5 separate regions of the Homo sapiens genome follow, and regions 2, 3, 4 and 5 are each linked to region 1. Evidence: fine-mapped expression QTL. A gene starts in region 1. Each other region holds a variant in brackets. All regions are shown on one strand. Distances are between the middles of the regions.

Evidence for each region. PIP is the estimated chance that this variant, and not a neighbour inherited with it, causes the effect. A credible set is the group of variants that fine-mapping cannot tell apart.
Region 2: its variant is the best candidate, but not a certain one, in a credible set for the expression of LHPP in B cells (Fairfax 2012, PIP 0.52).
Region 3: its variant is the best candidate, but not a certain one, in a credible set for the expression of LHPP in anterior cingulate cortex (GTEx, PIP 0.89).
Region 4: its variant is the best candidate, but not a certain one, in a credible set for the expression of LHPP in prefrontal cortex (ROSMAP, PIP 0.71).
Region 5: its variant is the best candidate, but not a certain one, in a credible set for the expression of LHPP in whole blood (INTERVAL, PIP 0.57).

The regions. Positions count from the first base shown.
Region 1 is chr10:124,459,481-124,463,978 of GRCh38, reverse strand. It overlaps LHPP (phospholysine phosphohistidine inorganic pyrophosphate phosphatase), which reads right to left and starts at 2,156. Exons shown (of 7, transcript NM_022126.4): 1 at 1,992-2,156. The coding sequence starts at 2,116. RefSeq lists an enhancer at 1-300 and a silencer at 1,817-2,276.
Region 2 is chr10:124,552,008-124,556,505 of GRCh38, reverse strand. All of the region lies in intron 6 of LHPP (phospholysine phosphohistidine inorganic pyrophosphate phosphatase), which reads right to left. Among named protein-coding and RNA genes, the nearest start is that of LHPP, 92 kb to the right of the region's middle. The variant A/G (reference allele first, on the strand shown) is at 2,078.
Region 3 is chr10:124,539,459-124,543,956 of GRCh38, reverse strand. The region is part of intron 6 of LHPP (phospholysine phosphohistidine inorganic pyrophosphate phosphatase); the gene reads right to left. Among named protein-coding and RNA genes, the nearest start is that of LHPP, 80 kb to the right of the region's middle. RefSeq lists an enhancer at 3,620-4,120. The variant G/C (reference allele first, on the strand shown) is at 1,935.
Region 4 is chr10:124,587,918-124,592,415 of GRCh38, reverse strand. All of the region lies in intron 6 of LHPP (phospholysine phosphohistidine inorganic pyrophosphate phosphatase), which reads right to left. Among named protein-coding and RNA genes, the nearest start is that of FAM53B-AS1, 110 kb to the left of the region's middle. The variant T/C (reference allele first, on the strand shown) is at 2,281.
Region 5 is chr10:124,617,349-124,621,846 of GRCh38, reverse strand. It overlaps FAM53B (family with sequence similarity 53 member B), which reads left to right. Exons shown (of 5, transcript NM_014661.4): 5 at 1-2,555. Among named protein-coding and RNA genes, the nearest start is that of FAM53B-AS1, 84 kb to the left of the region's middle. RefSeq lists enhancers at 1-156, 1,509-1,638. The variant G/A (reference allele first, on the strand shown) is at 2,065.

The DNA of each region.
Region 1 (4,498 bases):
TGGGCATGGTGGCACGTGCCTGTAGTTCCAGCTACTTGGGAGGCTGAGGTGGGAGGATCTCTTGAGCCCTTGAGGTAGAGGTTGCAGTGAGATTGAACCACTGCACTCCAGCCTGGGTGGCAAAGTAAGACCTTGTCTCAAAAAAAAAAAAAAAAAAAGAAAAAAAAATTAGGCCAGGTGTGGTGGCTCATGCCTGTAATCCTAGCACTTTGGGAGACCAAGGCAGGAGGACTGCCTGAGCCAAGGAGTTCAAGACCACCCTGGCAACATAATGAGACCTTGTCTCAAAAAAAAAAATTATACAAAGAAAAGTGTCAGCCAGGTGCGGTGGCTCACGCCTGTAATCCCAGCACTTTAGAAGGCCCAGGCAGGTGGATCAGTTGAGGTCAGGAGTTCGAGACCAGCCTAGCCAGTATGGTGAAACCCCATGTCTACCAAAAATACAAAAATTAGCTGGGCGTGGTGGCGGGTGCCTGTAATCCCAGATACTTGGGAGGCTGAGGCAGGAGAATCACTTGAACCTGGGAGGCAGAGGTTGCAGTGAGCCCAGATGGCGCCACTGCACTCCGGCCTGGGCAACAAGAGCAAAACTGTCTCAAAAAAAAAAAAGTGTCCTCATGGTCAAGTCTTGGCTGGCACGATGTTCTCTTCCTCCTCCTCTCACCTAAACCAATGCAGTCCAACAGAATTATAATGAGAGCCACAAAGGTAATTTAAAGTTTTCTAATAAGCACATTAACAAAAGTTAAAAAAAAAAGGTATACTTAATTTCAAATATTTTAACCTAAAACAGTATATTAAAAATATTATCAACTGGGCATGTGGCTCACGCCTATAATCCCAGCACTTTGGGAGGCCGAGGCAGGTGGATCACCTGAGGTCAGGAGTTAGAGACCAGCCTGCCCAACATGGTGAAACCCCGTCTCTACTAAAAATACAAAAAATTAGCCGGGTGTGGTGGCACATGCCTGTAATTCCAGCTATTCAGGAGGCTGAGGCAGGAGAATCGCTTGAACCTGGGAGGCGGCGGTTGCAGTCAGCAGAGATTGCACCACTGCATTCCAGCCTGGGCAACAAGAGCAAAACTCCGTCTCAAACAAAACAAATAAAAAAAGTAACTGGGCATGATGGCGGGTGCCTGTAATCCCAGCTACTCGGGAGCCTGAAGGGGGAGAATCACTTGCACCCGGGAGGCGGAGGTTGCAGTGAGCCGAGATCGTGCCATTGCACTCCAGCCTGGGCGACAGAGCAAGACTCCATCTGAAAAGAACAAAACAAAACAAACAAAAAGTATATCATTTCAACAGGCAAACAACATAACCCATTTTCATGTTTTTATTTTACATTTTACTCACGAAGTCTGGTGTTTTTGGGGGTTTTGTTTATGAGACCGTCTCGCTCTGCAGTCCAGGCTAGAGTACAGTGGGGTGATCACAGCTCACTGTAGCCTTGACCTCCTGGGCTCAAGCGATCCTCCTGCCTCAGCCTCCCAAGTGGCTGGGCCTACAGGCGTGCACCACCACACCCGGCTAATTTTTAAATTTTTGGCAGAGACGGGGTCTCCCTATGTTGCCCAGGGTGGTCTCCAACCCCCTAGCCTCAAGCGATCCTCCCTCCTCTGCCTCTGCAAGTGCTAGAATCACAGATGCGAGCCACCGCGCCCGGCTAAGTCTTGTTAATCGGTATGCATTTTACGCTTACAGCACATCTCAATTCAGACTGGCCGCAGGTCAAGCGCTCAGCAGCGCACGTACCAGGTGGCCGCCCTGTCTGACCGCGCAGCCCTAACCAGCAGAGTCCTGGTGCTCGCCGGGGGCAACAGTGGGGTCGTCCGTGGTCAGCACTGTGCGCGCACCGGGGTGGGAAGGGGGAGACCGAGGCGGGGCCTGCGCCGCGGCCCCGCCCCCTGCCGCCCCGCCCCCTGCCGGCAGCCAGGGAGCGGGCTGAGCTTAGAGCTCGGCGGCCCCAGCGGCGTCCCGGGGCCCACTCACCTGGCCACCGCCTCCACCGAGCCGGCGATGGCCGTGCCGCCGCCCGCGCCGCTGTCGTACAGCACGCCCGAGATGTCAAGCAGCACCCCGCGCACGCCAGCCAGCCGCTTGCCCCACGGTGCCATGGCGCCCGGCCCTGCTCCTCAGCTCCGCGTCCCAACCGACGCCGGCGCCGGCGCCGCGGCCGCGCAGGGGCGCCTGGGAACTGTAGTCCCGCGGGCGGGGCAGGGCAAGAAGACCGGGTGCAAACCCGGAACTGGGGCGCGGCCTGGGCACCCCGGCGTCACTCGCCCCTGAAACGGTGTCCTTTTCGGAAGCTTTCTTCCCAGGAGATCAGCGGACAAAGAGCAGGAAAAGCAGAAAACAAGTCCCTAAGAAAGGTCAAAGGCAAATTGAGACAAGAAGGCACCTGTAGCCAGGGGCGGTGGTTCACGCCTGCAATCCCAGCACTTTGGGAGGCAGAAGCGGGCGGACAGCTTGTGCCCAGGAGTTCTAGACCAACCTAGTCAACATAGTGAGACCCTGTCTCTATTAAAGAAAGAAAGAAAAAGTACAATACAAAATTGAGGCCGGGCGTAGTGGCTTATGCCTGTAATCCCAGCACTTTGGGAGGCTGAGGCGGGTGGATCGCTTGAGATCAGGAGTTCGAGACCAGCCTGGTCAACATGGTGAAACCCCTGTCTCTACTAAAAATACAAAAATCACCTAGGTGTGGTGGCGCATGCCTGTAGTCCCAGCTACTCGGTAGGCTGAGGCGGAAGAACCGCTTGAACCTGGGAGGCGGAGGTTGCAGTGAGCCGAGATTGCACCACTGCACTCCAGCCGGGGCGACAGAGCAAGACTTTGTCTTAAAAAAAAAAAAAATTATATGCAGATAACAGCCCTGCATAGATGAGGATGCATAGGACCTGGGCTGAGAAGAAAACGGGACTATCACAATGCGTTAAACCCAGGAGGTTTTTGGATAAGCTATAAAATACCACTCGATGCTACATTATTTTTGCAATAAATACACATTGATATTAAAAGGGAGGAGTTTCCTCAATGGCCCCTCGGAACCTTTCAAGTTATTAAATAGAAACGAGAACACTTTACTTCTGGTCCAACATAGCTTTGAGCTTTCAAAGAAGAGAGGATCATATTATTTCACCATTTCTTTTCAGGCTCTTGATTCACAGAAAGGATGAGGAATTCGTTGAAATGTTATGGGGTTCAATGAATTGTGTATATTTTGTTGACATGCTTACTAGGGGAGCTGTTTACAAGTGAAATAAAATACAGTTCCTACCCTTTGGGATTTCCACTAATGGGGTTGGGGAGTAGTATACCTTATATAAGGGTTCTTAGTCGCAGACAATAGACACCACTCCAGCTAGAGGGGTTTTGTTTACATGAGGTGAAGGAGCTTACAGATGACGGGTCTAAGTCCTACACAGCCAGGAGCCATGCAGCCACGAGAAACACTTAATTTTACTACTCCATTGGGACCACTGCCCCATCACTTAGTGCAGCCCCCAGCATAGCTGCCCCCAAAAGAACAAAACATATCCACCACTGTGCCCTCCACCTGTGGCCACCCACTCACTTTCACTGTGTCTGGCTTGGTGGAACCTAGCCCACGCTGCAAAGGAGTCTGGGAAATGCAGTTTTTAGTGTTCCAGGGGCTGAGTGAGTCAGTTTGGAGAATCTGCTAGGAACATCATGAACCGTACACGTATTGAGACCCTACTCTGTGCAGTGGGCACAAAAAAGTTCTAGGGTGTGATCCTTGCCTTCCAGGATCAAGACTGGGCAGAGAACAATGGAAGACCTTCACGACTGCTGACCAAATGTGTGCCAAGTGGCAATGAGTGACACAGACACAGTCAAGAGGATGACCTCTGCAGGCCTAGGAGGGCAGCTGTGGCTTCTGGGCAGGGGCAGCCTGAAATGGACCTTGGAGAATGGCTGGGCTTTAGCTTCATGCCAAGGAGGAGGAAAAGGGGTGCTTCTGCCAGTGGTGTGAGCCTACCCATAGTTGTTTCTTTTCAGTCAGCTCTGTGGGTACTCTTGGGCAAGTCCCTTTTCATTTCTACGACTACAGTAGACAGAATAGTGCCCCCTTGAGATGTCCACCTCCCAATCCCCACAACCTCTAAATATATTACCTGACATGGCAAAAGGGACTTAGATCTTGCAGAGCCTATGCTCCTGTAGGGAGATTATCCTGGATGGTCCAGGTGGGCCCAGTATAATGACATGAGTCCTCATAAGGGAAAGAGGGAAGCAGGAGAGAGTCAGAGTCAGAGAAGGAGGTGTGACAGCAGAAGCAGAGGTCAGAGAGAGAGGTGTGAAGATACCGTGCTACTGGCCTTGAATACAAAGGGGCCATGAGCCAAGAAATGCAGGTGGCCTCTGGAAGCTAAAAAAGGCAAAGAATTGGATTCTCCCCTAGAGCCTCCAGAAGGAATGCAGCCCTGCTGGTACTTCAAGTTTAGGACTTCTTACCTCCAGAACTATAATAATAA
Region 2 (4,498 bases), 93 kb before region 1:
GCAAAGCTATGCTACAAGGATGAGCAATGCAGTTGGGTTTACAATAATGAAGAATTGGAAACACATGGAGCATCTAACCATAATACTAAGGGACTGTTTAGGATGCGTCCACACGCGGGAGCAGGGTGCAGCCATTAAAACGATGGCCCCGGAGAATGCACGGTGGTTTGGAAGGGTGTTCTGGAACTGGGCACTGGGAAGAGATGTCCCAAAACAGCCTGTGCTCCTGACCTCACCTGTGGACTAGAACACAGAGGACACATTTGTGCACACAGTTTGGAAGGTGGACACCCAGCGGCATCAGAGGTCACCGTCACCTCTGGATGGTGGGCTGGTCGGTGGTTTACCCTCTGCCTTTCACTTCTTCAGTTTACTGAAGTTTTCAAGAGGGAACACAGACACAAGTTTAGGGGCCTGAATTTGAATACCACCTCTGCCATCTCATAACTGTGGCCTTTGCAAGGCTGTAGAGACAAAATGAGCCAGTGCATGTAAGCACCAAATAAATAGTGGGCACTGGGGTCAACCAGCTAGGGCCCAGCCTGGTTGCACTACGTCCCAGCTGTGTGACCTCGGGCCAGTGACTTCATTCATCTGTAAGGGGGAATATGGCCTGAGGACTTGGGTGCAGGTTCAGCAAGGTAACATGTACAAACAGCTCGGGGCAGAACTGAGCCCAGAACAAGAGCTCAATAATGTCAGTGGTTTTATTATCAATAAGAAAAAATGCAAACTATTATATTGAATTTTTTTTTGAAAAATAAAGAGCCTAACAGTCAAGATAGACAAAGTACCTTAAAGCAACTAGAAAATCAGATAAAATATATGAAACAATGACATTCAGGCCCCGCACACCAGGCAGCGCAGGACTGTGGGCCTAGAAAGGAGGGACTCCAATAAGGCCAGCCCTACAGGTGCCCTCTGCAGAGCAAGGTCCCCCATGCTGACCTCACAGCTGGGGGACCCTTCCCAGGCTGTGGGAGGGTCCAGGGAGATCAGACGGGGACACAGGTTGGGTGGGTAGCACAGGGTGTACTGCAAAGCGCTGACACACCAGGACCCAGCCGGGCTTTGGACAAGTGGGGAGGGCCAGGCCCTGTAAGGCAGGGACCCTCCCTTCCTCCCTTCCTCCAGGGAGGAGCTGTGCCTTGTAGAGCCCCCATCTCACTCTAGGGTCTCCCAGACTACAGTGCTCACTCGCCCTGGCAAGGGTGCCTCCTGCAGGCCTGTGGCTGTGGTCCAGCCAGGAGTTCGCCCACCCTGCCTGTTCTCCACTACTGGGCTGAGGGAAACATTGACACACTCACCCCTCACCCATCCCCACTGGCCCACCCAGGAAGAGAGCAAAGGGGTCAGGGCCTCCACTCGGGAGGCAGAGAGCACAGTGGTGTTGAGAATGGCTGGCTTCAAATCCTGGCCCAGCTGCCCTCTCGCTGGACGTACTCAAACCAGTGATTCAGCCTCTCTGAGCCTCAGTTTCCTCACCCTAAAGTGAGACTAAAATGCCAGCCGCATAAAGCTGCTGTTGGCAATCAGTGAATTATGTCTGTGCAGTGTTTAGCCCAGAGGCTAAGAGCACACAGCAGGTGCTCAATAAATGACAGCCGCAATTATGAACAATCTCCTGTCCACATTTGCCTCATTCCTTCGTTAAAGAACCTAATTCTGTCTAGAAATATCTGCCAGAGTTGCAAAGTCTTTGGAAAGGCCCTAAGGCCCAGAGATGGAAAAAGTGTACAGAAATGATGATGGGGCAAAAGTGAGCCCTGGGACCCGCCAAGCTAACAGCCCACCCAGGAGTAAGCGAGGTGCAGACAGCCCACCTGGCCCCGCCCACCTGGCCCCTCCCACCTGGGCCCACCCCTTCAGCTCGTCTAGGGCTGTCAATGATAGAGATGACAAGGACAGCAGCAGCAGCATTAATGAAGCAGTGGCTCTGCACCGGGCACTAGGCTAAGCACTGCATGCACATTATTAAACTGCCATATCCCATTATAGAAACTGAGTCCAGGCCGGGTGTAGTGGCTCATGCCTGTAATCCCAGTATTTTGGAAGGCCAAGGCAGGAGGATCACTTG[A/G]GCCCAGTTCAAGACCAGCCTGGGCCACACAGGGAGACCCTGTCTCTGCAAGAATTTTAAAAACTAGCCGGTGTGGTGGTGCATGCCAGTAGTCCCACCTCAGGCATGCATCCTACCCAGGAGGCGGAGGTGGGAGGATCACTTGAGTCCAGAAGGTCAAGGCTGCAGTGAGCCATGATTGCACCACTGCACTCCAGCCTAGGTGACAGAGCAAGACCCTGTCAATAAATAAATAAAATGAATAAATGAATAAATACATAATAAACTGAGTCTTAGGTTGAAAAACCTCTACCTGGCCCAGGTCGTCCCAGCTGTAAATGTCAGAGCAGGAGCTGAATCCAGGCAGCCCAGGCTGACCACCGCCCCGCAACTACAGGCTCGAGGCCTTCTTCTATCTGCAGTGGAGTCTCTCGAAGAAGACTCACATGGAGCTGTCCACAGGAGCGCCCAGTTCCCAGAGCATGGTGCCGCAAGGACAACAGGGGGGCTCTGTCCCTCCTGGAGCAGGAAAAGAACAGATGCCAACAGCTTAGCCTGTGGTAAGACAGATGTGGTGGGCCCCTTACCTCCTTCTGCAGACAGAGGAGGGGCCTGGCCCGGGGGAGGTCTCTGTGCAGCTCCCAAGGTGACAATATCACCGGGAGTCATACAACATTCAAGAATGGCTGTAGGCCGGGCGTGGTGGCTCACGCCTGTAATCCCGGCACTTTGGGAGGCCGAGGCGGGCGGATCACAAGGTCAGGAGATCGAGACCATCCTGGCTAACACGGTGAAACCCTGTCTCTACTAAAAAATACAAAAAATTAGCCAGGCGTGGTGGCGGGCACCTGTAGTCCCAGCTACTCGGGAGGCTGAGGCAGGAGAATGGCGTGAACCCGGGAGGCGGAGCTTGCAGTGAGCTGAGATTGTGCCACGGCACTCCAGCCTGGGCGACAGAGCGAGACTCCGTCTCAAAAAAAAAAAAAAAAAAAAAAAAAAAGAATGGCTGTAATCCTGGCCCTATGGTGCCGCTGTTGGGATTTTCCTGGGGTTTCAGGGCAGTCCGAGCTCAGGTGCATCCTGGCTGCAGGTGCAGGGGGTGGGCAGGAGGAAAGCCCCATATGCTCCCCACATGAGAACCCCACTTGGGTTCTGTCCCAGCTCAGCATATGGATTTCTTGTTCTCTTTCTCCAAGTTCCCCTTTGTCAGGCTGAGTCTATTGAGCCAGAAAATCAGCCGTGTTCTGGGGATGGCCAAGTCACAGGGACCTGGCTTCCCATGGTGCTGCCACTCATCAGCTGGGTCCCTGATCAGAGTCCCTGGGTGCTAAAAGCAGGCACTGACTGCCCTCCCAACATCGAGGTCCCCAGAAGGCCCCCTTGTGCAGAATAAAGACACGCTAGGAGGCCGCGGAGCGCTGAGCGGCGCTCATTATCAGCTCGGAAGGCCAGCTTAAAGGATATTCCAGTAATTGCAAGGTTTTTGGTAAATGTTAATTACGGTTGCCTTAATTAGCTCCAAACCCATTGATCTATGGATTATATTAGGTTTATAAGTGTAATTACCTTAACAGCATATGGATTACAATTACGCTCCAATTAAACCCCAAACGTATAGCATATAAATTAGTAAAGGGATCGTCCTGATTGTCCAGGATAGGCTATTGAAATGTTGCCACTTTCAGGGCCTCATGCTGGGGCTGGTCCTTTGCAGGCGGGGACCTTGGGGAATTTGGAGGTAGGGGGTTCAAATGGTCTCTGGCAGCCACGCGTCCAGTCCATCTAGACCCGATTTAGAAATGACTACAGGGGCGGGGGCTGGCAGGCCCCAGCCTGGGGGGCAGTGGCTGGAGGATTAAGAGCTGTGCCTGCTCAGCTCGTCTTCTCTCAAAGAAATCAGGACACCCAACAGCCCATTAATGATGCCCCTCACTGCTCTCCCTCCAGGTAGAGATGGCTTTCTTGCCTTGTCTGGGGGAGGGGCAGGTGCTTCTTTAGACAGCTCCATGTGGATCTGCTGTGGGGGATTCCAGTATAGACAGGAGGCCTAGAGCCTGTATGTGAGAGAGGGGTGGGTGGTGGCAGGGTGGTGATCAGCCTGGGTTGCCTGGATTCAGGGCCTGCTCTGCCACTTACAGCTGGGATGACCTTGGTCAAGTAGTTTTTCAACCTAAGACTCCGTTTCCGTAATGGGGATCCGGTAATTTAAGAATGTACATAAAGTGCTTAGCAGAGTGCCTGGTGCACCATGGCTGCTGCTGCCATTAACATCATGAACTCACTTCCAGGGTGGGGAAAGGCTGGAGGGCAAGAGCGCAGGAGGGCAGGGGCAGCCTGGAGTGCCAGGCCCTGCCATTCTCCCAGCCCCTCTTCTGACAAGCAGGAATGGGGCACTGGGAAGTCCCACGAAGCCTGGAAGACAGACAGGTGACAGGTGGAGAA
Region 3 (4,498 bases), 80 kb before region 1:
AGTTTATAAATCGTTGCTTTTAGTATGCATTTTTTGTTTGTTTGTTTTTTAAAAAACAGGCTGAACAAAATGCTAACTGTGGTTCCTTTTGGAAGGTGGGATTGTGGATTATTTTCTTTGTGATTTTCTGTATTTTCCAAAGAAGGCATGCATTTCTTATATTATCAGAAAAAAAAATATATTAATTTTTAAAAGAAAAAAATTGAAGGTGCCATAAAAAATGTACAAACTAGAAGGATTAATAGAATCCCAAATATATAAAGTGGCTTTTCTGTGCGCTGCTGTGCTGGGCCCAGACAGGCCCCACGGACCCCTCCACACAGCTGAGAAGTGCAAGATACAGCCCAGCCGCCGCCACCATGGGCAGCTGAACTCCTCACGGCTAGTGGCCCTGGCAACCTAGAAGTCCCATCTCCAGAAAGGCCCTGAGCCCAGAGAAGACTCCCTGTTTTGAGGCCCCAAGGCTCAGCCCTTGTGGGGCTCCCAGACCTCCGCCTTCCCAGGGCACCTCTGCCGTTCCCAGTCAGCACATCACCGCAGCCACGGTACAGCCACCTGCGCCTGCACTGTCCTCGCTGGAAAGATGGCTGTGGGATGCGGGCAGACCCCGCACCTGGGCCGACCGGGGGTGTCTAGGGGTCTGGAGGACAGGCAGTGTCTACCCTCAGGTTGGCCACAAACTCCTGTCCCTCTGGGGAGTGCGCCCTGCCAACCCCTGTGGGGGCCATACAGGAAGGAGCAGCCAGGGAGGTGGAGTCTGGGAGGATGAAGGCTTGTACTGCCCGAGCTGGAACGGGGGCATTTTCTCTCCCAGTCAACCCTCGGACAAGGCCCTGTCCAGGTATCCAGCCCCCTGACAGGTACAGCCTGAGGACCCGCTGGGCCCACACCCTGAGATGGGCATGGGTGGCAGTGAGGTGTGGCACAGCAGCCCCCACTCACAGGGCACACGCAGTGCAGGGGCAACGACAGACACTCAACCCAGAGCTGCTGCATCCCCACTGTGGCAAGAGCCATGGGCAGGCAGGGACCGGGGAGAACGACCGTGACGGGGCCTAGATGTGCAGGACCCTCAGCCTCGGTCAGGGAGACGGCTGGACACCACTGATGAAAGGCAGGCAGGCGCGTCCACAAAACCCCATGAACGTGAGGGGAGGCGAGAGGGCAGAGGGGAGAGTAGGGGCAAGGAGGCGATCAAGAAGAGGCAGCAGGGCGGGGTGAGCCCCTGGAAGGAGGCAGAGAGGTGGGCTTCTGGGAAAAATGGGCCTCCAGCCTGGCTGGGCCCCAGGGTGCACAGGGCTGGGATGGGGACCAAGGTCTTCTGGTAACTGCCCCCTCCCCCAGGCTGGTACCAGCCTGCCCCTCTCTCTGGTCCCCACCTGGGGATGCAGGAGAGCTGCAGGCTGAACTGGAGCAGGAGAAGCTCTGATGCAGGAGGCGGCTCCATTCCCCCAGCGCCCTCTCCAGTCCCAGGGAGACCCTGGACCTGAGCACACAGGCTGGAAACAGACTGCCAGGGCCCAAGTCCCACCTGCTGGCTGCATCCCCTCAGGTGGGTCCTAACCTCTCTGTGCCCTCACCTGTAGGTGGAGATGTATTCGTACCTCTCTGGCTGTTGTGCAGGTATCTGTAAACACATAAGTGCTGGATAACTTCAAGGTCAGTAAATAAGTGAAGGCGCTTGGTGGCTGAGTCCCACAGCCTGGGGTCACAGTCCGATCTGTGCAAGCCCCGTGCCCACCAGAGCCACTGAAGGCATCTGTGTTCCATGCTGGCCCGAACGCCAGCCCCAGACCCCAGACTGCCCCAGGTGCTGGTCAGCTCTAACTGCGGTCCCAGGCACAGTGGGAAGGTCATGGGGGCAAATGCAGATGGAGCCTTTGGTGAGGCAGCCACCGAGTCTGCAGGGGCTTCCAACTCCAGGAGCCTCAGCT[G/C]GAGAGGTGTCTCAGGAGAGACCCCTCAAAGCCCCCTCCTGCTGTCCGTTTCATGTCTGGACAGGGACAGCATGTGGGCACAGGGCACTCTGCGAATGACCAGATGTCAGCATCTCCCCAGGTAGGAGCTGGGGAGGCAGCACCCTTGCAGTGGGGAAGTAGGGGTGAAGGAAAGGTCACCCCATCTGGGCCGGGGCCTGGCCCGCCCAGCCCACTCCACTCTGGTCTCCAACATTGCAAATTTGTGCAAATACCATTAGAGCCCTCCCCAGTGTCCAGCGTGTTCTAAGAAGCCCTCGTAGCTTGTACTGAGGGATGACGTCATGGGAACTCCCACCCACAGAAGCCCTCCAGGGCCTCAGTGCCCCCTCGAGTGCCCAAGGCATTTGCCTAGACACACACTGTCCCCACGGGTGGTCCCAGGCTCACGCGGGGGTCCTGCAGACAGGCATGAGACTTTCGAGCCTCAGCCTGCCATTCGAGATATGCTAGGGACACCAAACGCCCAGGTGGAATTCCTCAGGGTGGCCATGAGCCGCAACTCCGTTAGGTCTGGGGCTAGCAGAGGCTGGCTCTTCTGCCACCTCAGGAACTGCATCCCATGTGGCCATTTTGAGCCACAGGCAATGTTCTTGCAAGGCAGAGAGCTCCTTCCTGGGCTCTTTCCACAATGAACGCCCGCCACAAAGCAGCCCTCGATAAAGTCAGCCTCCCTCTGATCAAGTTTGGCTCCAGCCCAAATTGTCTATCCTGGTACTGCAGGCTGGTCGTGTCGGCTGTGTCCCCCAAGCACAGTGTGCAGGGGCAGCGGCCCACCTCCAAGCTGCCTCTTGGTGACTCACCATTCTGGGTGGCTCAGAATACATCGCACTCCAGGACTCAGGCACACTGCGTGGGTATGGCAGGCTCTCCTCCGGCCATCCCAGGGCCCAGGGCCACTTTGTGATTTGGGGGGCCCCTTCCTCCATTAAAAAAGCTGTTAAATAATTTAATGGATTTTTGAATTATTATTTCTAAAGTGAGAAAAAACATTAAAACATTTTCTTTGGCCCTAAATGTTCCAGAGATATTTTCCTTCTAATTTTAAAATAAATTAAACATTTTCTTGAGCCCCTAAAGGCATCGTGTGTCCAGAACCTGCTAAAGAAGTGAGCCCAGGTTCCTCTGGATCCAACTCCCGGGAGATCTGGAGCCTAGATCTAGGGCCAGAACTTAGGAGGACTCTGCCCCCTGGTTTTGGTGGCCACCTCAGTGCAGCCTTTGGGGTCCCGGGGCCTCTGTAGGGCCGGCTGGAGAAGATGCTCTTTCTCTCTGCTGCTGCTGGAACCCTGCCTGTGAGTCAAACCATGGAGCACCGTGAACCCCAAGCCACGTTCCAGGCAGCCAAAGTGCAGGGGTGTGCGAGGCCACCCCGAGCAGCCCCGGATCCCCAGCAAAAATGTCACTCAAACTGCAAAGGCAAAACTCAGCTTAAGGGAGCAGGCCAGTGGGGCCAGGAGCACGAGGCTGTGCTGTGCCTCAGGGTGAAGGGCGCTCGGGGAAAGGGAAACTGAGAGCCGTCAGTGGGGTTGGTGGGCGAGCGGCTCCAGGCAGTGGTGAAAAGGCCCCATCCTGCGCAGCCCCCCTGGCCCTAGCCTGGCCACGAAGCAAAGCGGGAGAAACCAGGCTGGGTCCCCGGCCGCAAGTCCCTGCCGCCCCCTGGTGGGAACCCACAGCCGTGTGGACCTGGAGGGCCAGGGCAGGGCTATGTGCCTGGGCTGCAGGACCCTGCTTAGGTGGGAGCCCTCCTTGTCTCGGGAGGCCACAGCACAAGGCACACCTGCCCACCCACCCACAGCATCTCCACCGAAGCGCACAGACACAGAAACAGCACGGCGCTGCATGAACGGCTGGGCCAGGGCACCTGCAGGTAAACCCTCCCCTCCCCACGGTTATCTGGGGACCCAAGTTTCCCTAAATAATCATACTGATGAGAACACCAAGAAAATGAGCAGAAGCGGGTAACTGCTGAACCCTTGCTGTGTGCCAGGAAGTGCGGTGAGTGCTTTTGGCAGGATATCTCATTCTGGTCTCCCCAGCCGTAGGTGGTAGGTACTCTTATTATGTCTATTTTATTTTTTTGAGACAGGGTCTCGCTCTGTCGCCCAGGCTGGAGTGCAGTGGTGCAATCTCAGCTCAATGCAGCCTCAACCTTCTGGGCTCAAACAATCCTCCCACCTCAGCCTCCTGAGTAGCTGGGACTACAGGTGTGTGCCACCATGCCTGACTAATTTTTTTTTTTTTTTTTGAGACAGGGTTTTGCTCTGTCGCCCAGGCTAGAGTGCAGTGGCACGATCTCAGCTCACTGCAACCTCTACTTCCCAGGTTCAAGTGATTCTCCTGCCTCAGCCACCCGAGTAGCTGAGATTACAGGCGTGAGCCACCACGCCTGGCTAATTTTTGTATTTTTAGTAGAGGCGGTCTCGAGCTTCTGGCCTCAAGTGATCCGCTCTCCTTGGCCTCCCAAAGTGCTGGGATTACAAGCATGAGCCACCATGCCCGGCCAAATTTTTGTACTTGTAGTA
Region 4 (4,498 bases), 130 kb before region 1:
CAAACCTGAGCCCTAGGTCCAGTGTGCTTTAAGAGCTCGGGTATGCTGCAGTTCGAGAGCTGACAGGGCCAGCCCGGGGCTGGGTGAGTGAGGGTGATGGGACTTCCCTCTTTGGGGTGCTGAGAGGGTTGAGGAGCCATCAGGCCCGGGTGCCATCTGCCAGGTTTTGCCTTCCTGGTGAGAGATGTGATACACAGAACCTGGCATATGCAGGCAGGCCACCCCGCACTGTCCCTCACCTAGTCACAGGCCAGACCACACTGTGCCAGCAAATGGGGCTTTATACTGCAGTTTACCATCCCATAGGGCTTGCCTTCTCTTATTGTTCCCCAACCCCAATATTTGATTTCCTAACTAATTTTACTTGCTTATTTGTCCATATAAACTTGAGTGCTGACTTGTCTAGGGTGTGTTACAAGGTGGGGAGAAGGAGGCAGGAGAGCAGATGAACCTGTTGGCATCTTAAATTGTTCCTAAACAAAGTTCTTCACCACCAGACAGTCTAATTTGCTCCTCAGAGCCCTTAAAACCAGGAAGTGTTGCTAGCTCCATTGTCAGAGACCCAAGATCAGAGAGATGAGAATGTTTCTCAAATGTGGCCGCTCTCTGTAGTCAGCTGCGGAGCTTAGAACAATTACTCCTACCTGGTATCAGAAGTTGGGATGCAGCTGAAGCAGGATTCAGAGGGAAATTCATAGTACCAAATGCTTGTTAGAAGAGAGGAAAGATCTGAAATTGATCACTGAAGCTCCCATCTTAAGGAAGTAGAAAAGGAGCACAAAATAAACCCAAAGCAAGCAGAGGAAGGAATAACAGAGACACGGACACAGTGCTGGCCACCTGCTGTGTGGCCTTGGGCAAGTCCCTTTTCTGGGCCTCAGTGTCCACAATGACTTTGTCCTAAACCTGTTGTTCTCTACCTGCATGGCCTGGAACCCCAGGCTTCCAGAGAAACCAGGAGTCGGGGGGACAGCCCAGGGGTAGGGGTCAGGCTGCCTCATCCTCAGGAGCCTGCCCCACACTGTCCATGGCAGGGGAGGTGGTGGGGGTTGGAGGTGGTATGGACTGTGTCCTCCAGCACCAGGCCTGCACCTGTGGAAGAGCCCCTGACTGCCCCAGCTCTGCCCCACCTTCAGGGGCACCCCAGCTTTTGTCTTTTCTCCCTGAGGCCTCTCCCTCACCGGCAGCTCAGGCCATGCCGGCTGGAGCCACACACATGCCACTGATCAGGTACAGAGAGTCTTCCCCGCTTGCCTCACCCCTGCTTTCATTAACAGGACTGGACCCCGAAGCAGCAGTTAACACCCACCCGCGGTGCCCCCTTCCCCCCGGCTTATTTCCTGCACACGCTACCCCCTCAGAGGGCTGCTCTGCACTCCCCACACAGACTTGAGGAAACAGGAATTCCTCACATTTGAGTCTCACAAAGGAATGATGCTCTCAGGCCCCAGGATGGGCGAGACTGCTTCTGTCTGAGACAGGGATCCTGTTTCCTGGAAAGGAGGCCTGTTGCAGTGTTTACCAATGACACAGTCCCATCCCTTGAGTTACAGGGCACAGCCAGATGGATACGAAGCCATCCTGTCCCTCCAAGTGTGCACTCTAATTATCTAGTCTTTGTTTTGTGGACAGAGAAGCAGGCTCAGGAAGGCGACATGGCTTCCCTCGGTGGCAGAGGAGGCAGGCAGGTGGCAGCGCTGGGGCTGGTGCCCACCGTGTCTCCTCTGGCAAGGGCTCAGCTGAGCCTTGTTGGTGCCACTGTGGGACAGGTACACTGTGCGGGTGGGGAGAGTCCTGGGCAGACAGGACCAACACAGTCCCCTTCACCTGGAGCTCCTGGGCTAGAAGTAACAAGTCCAGTCATGACACAAGGGACAGGTGCTGGGTGGGGGCTTGGCAGGAGAGCCAAGTCCCCTAATGGGGTCACACAGCGGCTTTCTCGGGGTAGCCTGGAGTTGCTCACCATCGCCCACGCCTGCGTCGGAACTCAACTCAGAATTCTGGGTCAGAAGTCTTCTTGGCTCAGAGGATGAGAGGCGCCTTCAGAGCCCAAGAAAGGTTGCCCTCGTGCGGAGGGTTCCAGCACTTCCCCGCAGTCGAGGGTGGGAGCCACTCCTGAGCAGCCTGGCAGTGGGGGTGCTTTCCTTTGCAGACCTCAACCAAAGCCAGTGCCTGCTCCGCACCCCACCCCCAATAATGCTCACACACCATGTTCTCCCACTTCAATTTCATGTGGCTGTGGAAGGAGAGAGAGAGACAGGGATTGGGAGAGGGAGGACG[T/C]CACATGAACGAATCGAATGAGCTGTTCACACTATTCTTTGGAAAGAACGATGGATAAAAAACCTGCAAAGCCAGTCAATCACGCATTTATTTTTCTAAGGGCGGGGGGCGGTGGAGTGGTGGGATGGAGAGAACTTTCCTGAAAGGATTTGGCCTTGAAACATGAAGTCAAACAACTGGATTTGGCAGGCTGACAGCTCCCGAGCCCCGCCAGCCCGAAGAACTGCCAGCCTGGCGGCCAGGGCGCGCTGAGACATAATGAACTCATTCAGAGCCGAGCGGGGCTGGAGGACGGGGCTGCACGCAGGGGGCCTTCCAACCAGAGGGGCTGCGGCACCAGGGACCCTGCAGGCCTGAACGAGAGCCGACCTCACCCCCAGAGATGCGGGAAAGGCGGGTCCGTCCGGGGATAGACAAGAAAGGGTCTTGCTCGAGTCTCTAACACACAAGGAAGTCCCAGAGAACAGGAGTGAAGGAGGCCGATCTCAGATGGGTGATGAAAGCTGGGGCCGGGTGAGCTCTGCACACTGGGACCTGTGCACTGAGCCTGACCCCTGCTCTCGTGTCAACAGTCCTGCTCCTCCCGGCTCATTCTGCTGAGCCCCATGGCCACCTCCAGGACCTTCTCCTGGGTGGAATCCTGCCGTGGGTCTGCGAGATTGTGAACTACATCTAAGCAACTCCATGGCTGAGCCCATGCCAGCTTTTTAAAGCCAAGTTTTCATTTTCACAGAGAGGCCTTTGCCTTCCAGGTGGCTCAGAAGCCTGAATGATAACAGGGCTCCATCCAGCAGTGGAAGCTTTTGTGGTTGGAACAGATAAGGAATTAGGACCTGCGGTGCACACTGCAAGTGAGACAGAGGTCCCATGTATCAGGCTGCGAGCACGGCCACCGCCAAGGAGGTGCTATAAGCTCTGAGATGCCTTATGCAGGAAAAGGCTCCTGACATTTCTGCACGGACTGTCCCCAAGGCTGCCTGTAAACCTTGCAGCAGCAGGAACAGGTTCTGCTTGAGTCCCGGCAGAAGCATTGGTCCTTGAAGGTGACAGGCCTCCTTTCTCTGGGATGGTTCAAGGGAGGGGCACCATGAGATCATCTCGGAGCCCTCACAGCCGCGCTGCTGGGGAAAGCCTTGATTTATGGGCGCTCCACCAGGGCTATAAATAACCGCGCTGCACCGGCTGTGGCTGGTCAAGAAACTGACGTCTGGTTTTCCCTAACCTTTGCCCTTCCTTCCTCATTCCCAGGGCACTGTGCAACATGTGTGGAGGGTGGGCCAGTGCCCTCTCCAGGACCCCCTGGACCTGACTGTCAGAGGAGGGAGGGGACAAGGGAGGCCTTGGGGTAGGGCATGTCTCCCTTGGAAGGCAGTGTTGGGGGAGCAGTGTCCTCTGCAAGCTGCTGTCACCTCAGATTCTGAGGAGCCAGGATCCATCAATATGGATATTTTTTGCAGACATTTGTAAAAACCTCAGATTCTGAGGAGCCAGGATCCATCAATATGGATATTTTTTGCAGACATCTGTAAAAACTTGTATTGATTTCAAAATGAAAAAGCTGGGCCGGGCACTGTGGCTCACGCCTGTAATCCCAGCACTTTGGGCGGGCGGATCACTTGGGGTCAGGAGTTCAAGACTAGTCTGGTCAACATGGCGAAATTCCATCTCTACTAAAAATACAAAAATTAGCCGGGCATGGTGGCAGATGCCTGTAATCTCAGCTACTCAGGAGGCTGAGGCAGGAGAATCACTTGAACTGGAGAATGCAGTGAGCCAAGATTGTGCCACTGCACTCCAGCCTGGGCAACAGAGCAAGACTCAGTCTTAAAAAAAAAAAGAAGAGAAAAAAGTAAAAGCATAAGTGGCTGCTCCAGAAAGCAGTGCTTCTGGCCAGCTGGACCCAGGGCACCTTGGAGGGCAGCAGAGGTGGCAAGGCTGAGGGACGCGTGTTGTGCCTGTGGCCACCTCTGGGCCTGACACATGAAGCCCCCGGGCCTCAGCAAGTGTCTGTTCAGTGGGTCACGTTTTCTCAAACTTCTGCTCTCTGTACAGAACACCTGTGAATGTGGCCTGCCTGGAGAGGGGCAGTGGCAGTGGGGCTGTCCGTCAAAGCTGGTGGCCAGTGGAGGTGGGCAATGCCAGGGTGAGGCTGTGTTTATCACGGCCTTCAGCCCCAGCTCCACCGGGTGGGTCTGGGGTCCCCATCCTTACAGAGGCC
Region 5 (4,498 bases), 160 kb before region 1:
CCATAAGGCTAAAAATAACTGGTGCGCTCCCTTGTGTTGGCTGACACGCGCGTTCAAAGCACTTTTGTAGTCACTTTGCTTTTGCTCGTCTTCATGGACGAGTGAACGCCTCGCTTCTGCAGGTTGAGTCCAGATGCTTCTCACCTTCTTTCTCCTCAAGAAAGATGCTTTTTGGGAAACGTTGTTTAAATCTTATTTTTTTACTACATCAAAAGGATGGTGGTTCAAGTTCCCAATATGTGGGTGGCACTTCTTAAAAATCAGCTTTAAGGAGCTGGCAGAAAGCCCCCAGCCCCACAGCCCTGAGAGATGGTGTTGCTAGCTCAGGTGGCTGACACATGGGGTATGCCGGGCACTGGGCAGGTCCCAGAGCCGGGGAACCAGCTCACCTCTGGTTGCTGTAGCTCCTGCCGGAGGCATGTCTACTTGTGATCCCGGACAGCCGAACCCAAGAGCTGGTGGCTCTGAGCAGACAGAGACATCTTGGCCTGTCCCTGCCTGGGGGTCATGGAGACCATGTCTTCTTAGAGCAAATGTGGAGGCGGCCAGGGCAGTTGTTGGGTGAATGTGGAGAGCACATGGCCATGTCTTGCCCCCGGAGTACCACTGGGCGTGGGGGGTCCTGGCACCACATGCCCGGTGTGGCCGAGGGCACACAGCCTCTATAGCAGGCCTTCCTGTGGAAGGCAGAGGCAGTGAGGGAGGTGGACGGTGCCAGCTGAGGCTGAGGCATGCAGCAGCCCCCAGCTACCTTTGCTTAGGGCTGGGGTGGGAGGCACATGGTGACAGGTATATGTCGTGGGACTGGGGTGTGGGTGACCTGCCCTCAAACCTTGCCTGCCACCTCCCCATTCAGGCCTGGTGGCAGGAAGGGACAAGCTGTGGAGCTGGCTGAGTCACAGCCACCTCCCCACCTCCCCGCAAGCTGGTCCCATCGACCAGCAAGCCCAGCCCCAGGGCGCTTAGGGAGAAATGACCCAGCCTCCTCAGACCCCGCCTGCCTGTCCTGTGCCCACCACGCAGCAGTCAGGGGAGAAAATGGTGGCTATCCCTTCTGCTTAGAGAAAGAAATGGCCTTTAGCTGGTTTCATGTTTGTGTTTTGACTGGAGGGAGTAGACCCTATCTATAAGGTGCCACCCCATCATCCAAGCTGCCACACTGCCCGGAGCAGCCTGTTCCTGCACTCCACCCTGCTGGCCCCAGGACTTCTGATCTCAGTCCTCTGGGAGGGAGGTTCGCCTAGGAGGTGCCCCCCACATTGGTGTCCCCATGGGCAGCAGGCAGACAGCTCACCCCCACCAGCATGATGGCCCCAGCTGGGGGCAGTGGCAGGAGCCTTACTTTTGTCACAGCCTTGCCCACAAACCCTGCCTCTGAGGGGAGACTGAGGAAGGGCAGAGCCAGAAGCAAGCCGTGCCAGGCCATCTGCCTGCTCATGGGGTCCTAAAGCGCGGGCTAAGCCTGCAGGAAAGCCGGGGCGGTGGGGGGGGCTTAGTGCCACATGCACCCCACTCATTCCAAAGCCACCAAACTGCCAGGGGCTGCCGTCCACCCGTGGGGCCCAGGGGCTGGGGCCACAGCCTTGCCATTTTCGTTGCCATACCCTCTTGCCTTACTCGCGGTGGAGGCCGGATTTGCACGGGCAGACGTGCACCTGGGCCCGTGGGGAGCTTGTTCTGACCAGACGTACAGATTTTCATTCTCAGAAAGCCTTACTTTTCAACCAAATTTTTGTAGCCAGTTTTGTGAATTTGTACACTGAAAGAAAATTTAAATAAAGGGGAAGTCCACATTAAAAAGAAAACAAAACAAACCCTAACTAACTTCCAAATGGGTCTCCTGGTGCGGGGGCGTGAGTGGCCGTGCCCTGGGTGTGCTGCCTGTCTGAGCAAGCTTCCCTAGCTGTGGAACCCCGGGCCCCCTGCTGCGGGCTCTGCCTTGGTGTCATGCCTGCTGCACCCCCGTTTCCACTGACGTGCCGTCTGTGGCTATGGGGGTGGTCACTGGAATGACGGTCACTCCAGACGTCAGCCGGCAGGGATGCAGCAGGCTGGCCGCGCACC[G/A]GGGCTCGGGCACCCTCTGGCCCCACACTGGCAATGATGCCACACCTTGCCATGTCCACGCTGTTGGTCAAACCCCTCTGTCATGCCTCTTTAAAGAGAAAAGAAGAGAAAGATTTTTTTTTTTTTTAATGGCAGACCGAAGTGGAGATCTTGTAGCCTAGATAGGATAGTCTGACCTTCTAGCATAGTCTTTTTGGCAAATGATTTGTGTTTTCAGTGTGTGGGGAAGCTGTCCTGGGGGCTGGGGCGACAGATAGCACATAGGCTGTTTCTGGGGCTGCAGGGGCTTCCCTGAGCTGGATGTTGTGGGTGTTGCCGTGCTTCAGGAAGTGTGGCGACCAGAAAGCGTAGACCCGGGGCCCAGGGTCTGCCCGCCCCTGCAGCCTGGCCTCCCCGCACAGGCTGTGGCTTGCACTCCAGCCGCTCTAGTCTCTCAGGAATTTGCTTGTTACTTGTACTGTGTAAATAAAGCTTCCTGGTTCAATACCCAAGTGCCTGGTGCCAGCTGTGTGGTTTCTGTTGGGTGTGGTGAACTGGCAGGTCCCCCCTGCTCACAGGAGCATTAGCTCTGGGCGCAGAGAGACCTAGACTGGACCCTTCTGTCCCCTCCAAGCCTCGGGGTCTGAATCGATAAAATGGGGCTAGCAGACATCACAGAGCTGTGGAGACGCCGGGGGACGGGGGAAGGCTGCCCATGGCCACAGCTGCATCATGGGGAGCCCTTCTAGGGCCAGGAGCCCCAGGACAGCAGTGGGGAGACACTCCTTGTGTCACTTGAGTTAGAAGCCATGGAGGAGTCTGCCCTTCCGAGCACAGCAGCTCAGCCTTCGACAGCGCTGGGAGGTGAGGCCACACAGCAGCGTGCGGAGATGGGCCCAGCCTGGCCTGCAGCCCTGAGGGGCCTGGGATGGCCCCCACCACCCACCCACCAGGGTAGCTGAGGTGGCACAGACAGGCTCACTGGCTCCGGGTTTCTGCCCCCGCTGCAGGCAGCACAGTGCAGACTTCTGCTGCGTGAGTGAGTTGCGGGGGCCCCAGAAGCACGAAGCCCAGCCCGGCGTGGCCCACTGTCTCCCGTGCATGGCCCTCTGCTTACCCGGACTCAGGAGAAGGGCGTGTTTGCGGCCTGGAGGACAGGCGTGGAGAGGTTTGCTTGATTTCCATAACTCAACACTTGCCCACACAATCTGCCCATGGAAGTCTGGCCTAGAATGCTTGTTAGGGCCAGAGCAGCCCCTCTGGGAATGAGGCTCTGTAGCCCCCGCTTTTCTTTTGGTTTTTGCTTTTAGCAAGATTTTTTTTTTTTAAGTCTATGAGCACTGAACTCAAGAAACAAACATGTGAAGTGGGGCTGCTGGGGGGAGGTGAGCCCCTTGTCCTCACTGCCATCCCTGCAGCCCTGCCTTACCCAAGGCCTAGGGACTCACTGATTCGAGGCTGGATGCATTGACTTCCCCAGCACACCCTCCCCTCACCCCTGCCTCCGTATCTGACAGATGACTGGTGGGCCAGGGGCTGGCGGGGGGCTTCTACCCAGCGCAGTGCCCCCACCCTTGTGCCCCACCTGAGGGTAGGGCACAGAGTGGCCCTGGAATTACCTCTGGCCCTTACCAGCCCCTTGCTGCCCCCAATCCCTAGATGAGGTCCCTGGCTGGATGGATAGCTCCGTTCTGCCCCCACGTGGGGCCTGGCCCCAGGCCTCACCCCCAGTGCAGTGCCCAGGCCAGGCACAGGTGCTTCTGACATGGGGCACACGTGTAGTCTCCTTACCTGCACAGCGATCATAACCCTGTGGGCTTACGAGAGAGACTCAGCCACTCTGTCCAGTGTGCAGGGAAAGGGCTGGAAGGAAGAAGGCCGAAAGGAAAGGCCCCAGAGAGCACAGTGCTCAGACTCCCGGGTGACTTCTGGTTTCTTTTTATATACTTCTGTTAAATTTCCTGTAATAACACATGCTGCTTTTATAATGTTAAAAAAACCACGTAGAATGTAGGCTGCCCCGTGTGTTCACCTCCTAAACCAGGACAGTTCTGAGGGGCAGCTGGAACTGTTGACACGCACTCTGGCACGGGAGGCGGACCCAAGAGCACCCACCCCAGAGGGGCACCACACTCGCCCGTCCCGCCCTGTGTCCCCACCTCTGCCCTGAGGTGAACACAGGAGGCTTTCCACCTGCCAGCTGCCAGCCAACCTCCCCGAGAGGGGCAGGAACCGACCAGCAGGACAGACCCACCCAGGACAGCGGCACCAGGTCAGGCCTCAGCCTTTCCGATCCTCTGGAGGGCTCAAGCCGAACGGAAGGAGGGAAGAACTGCAGTCACCTGGGCCGGTGGCGCTCACATCTGACGTGGAGGCCTCTGCTTCACTTGGCCCAGTTCCCAGCCTTGTCGGCAGTGAGGACATGGACCCTCGCTGGCATCCGTCCTCCGTCTGG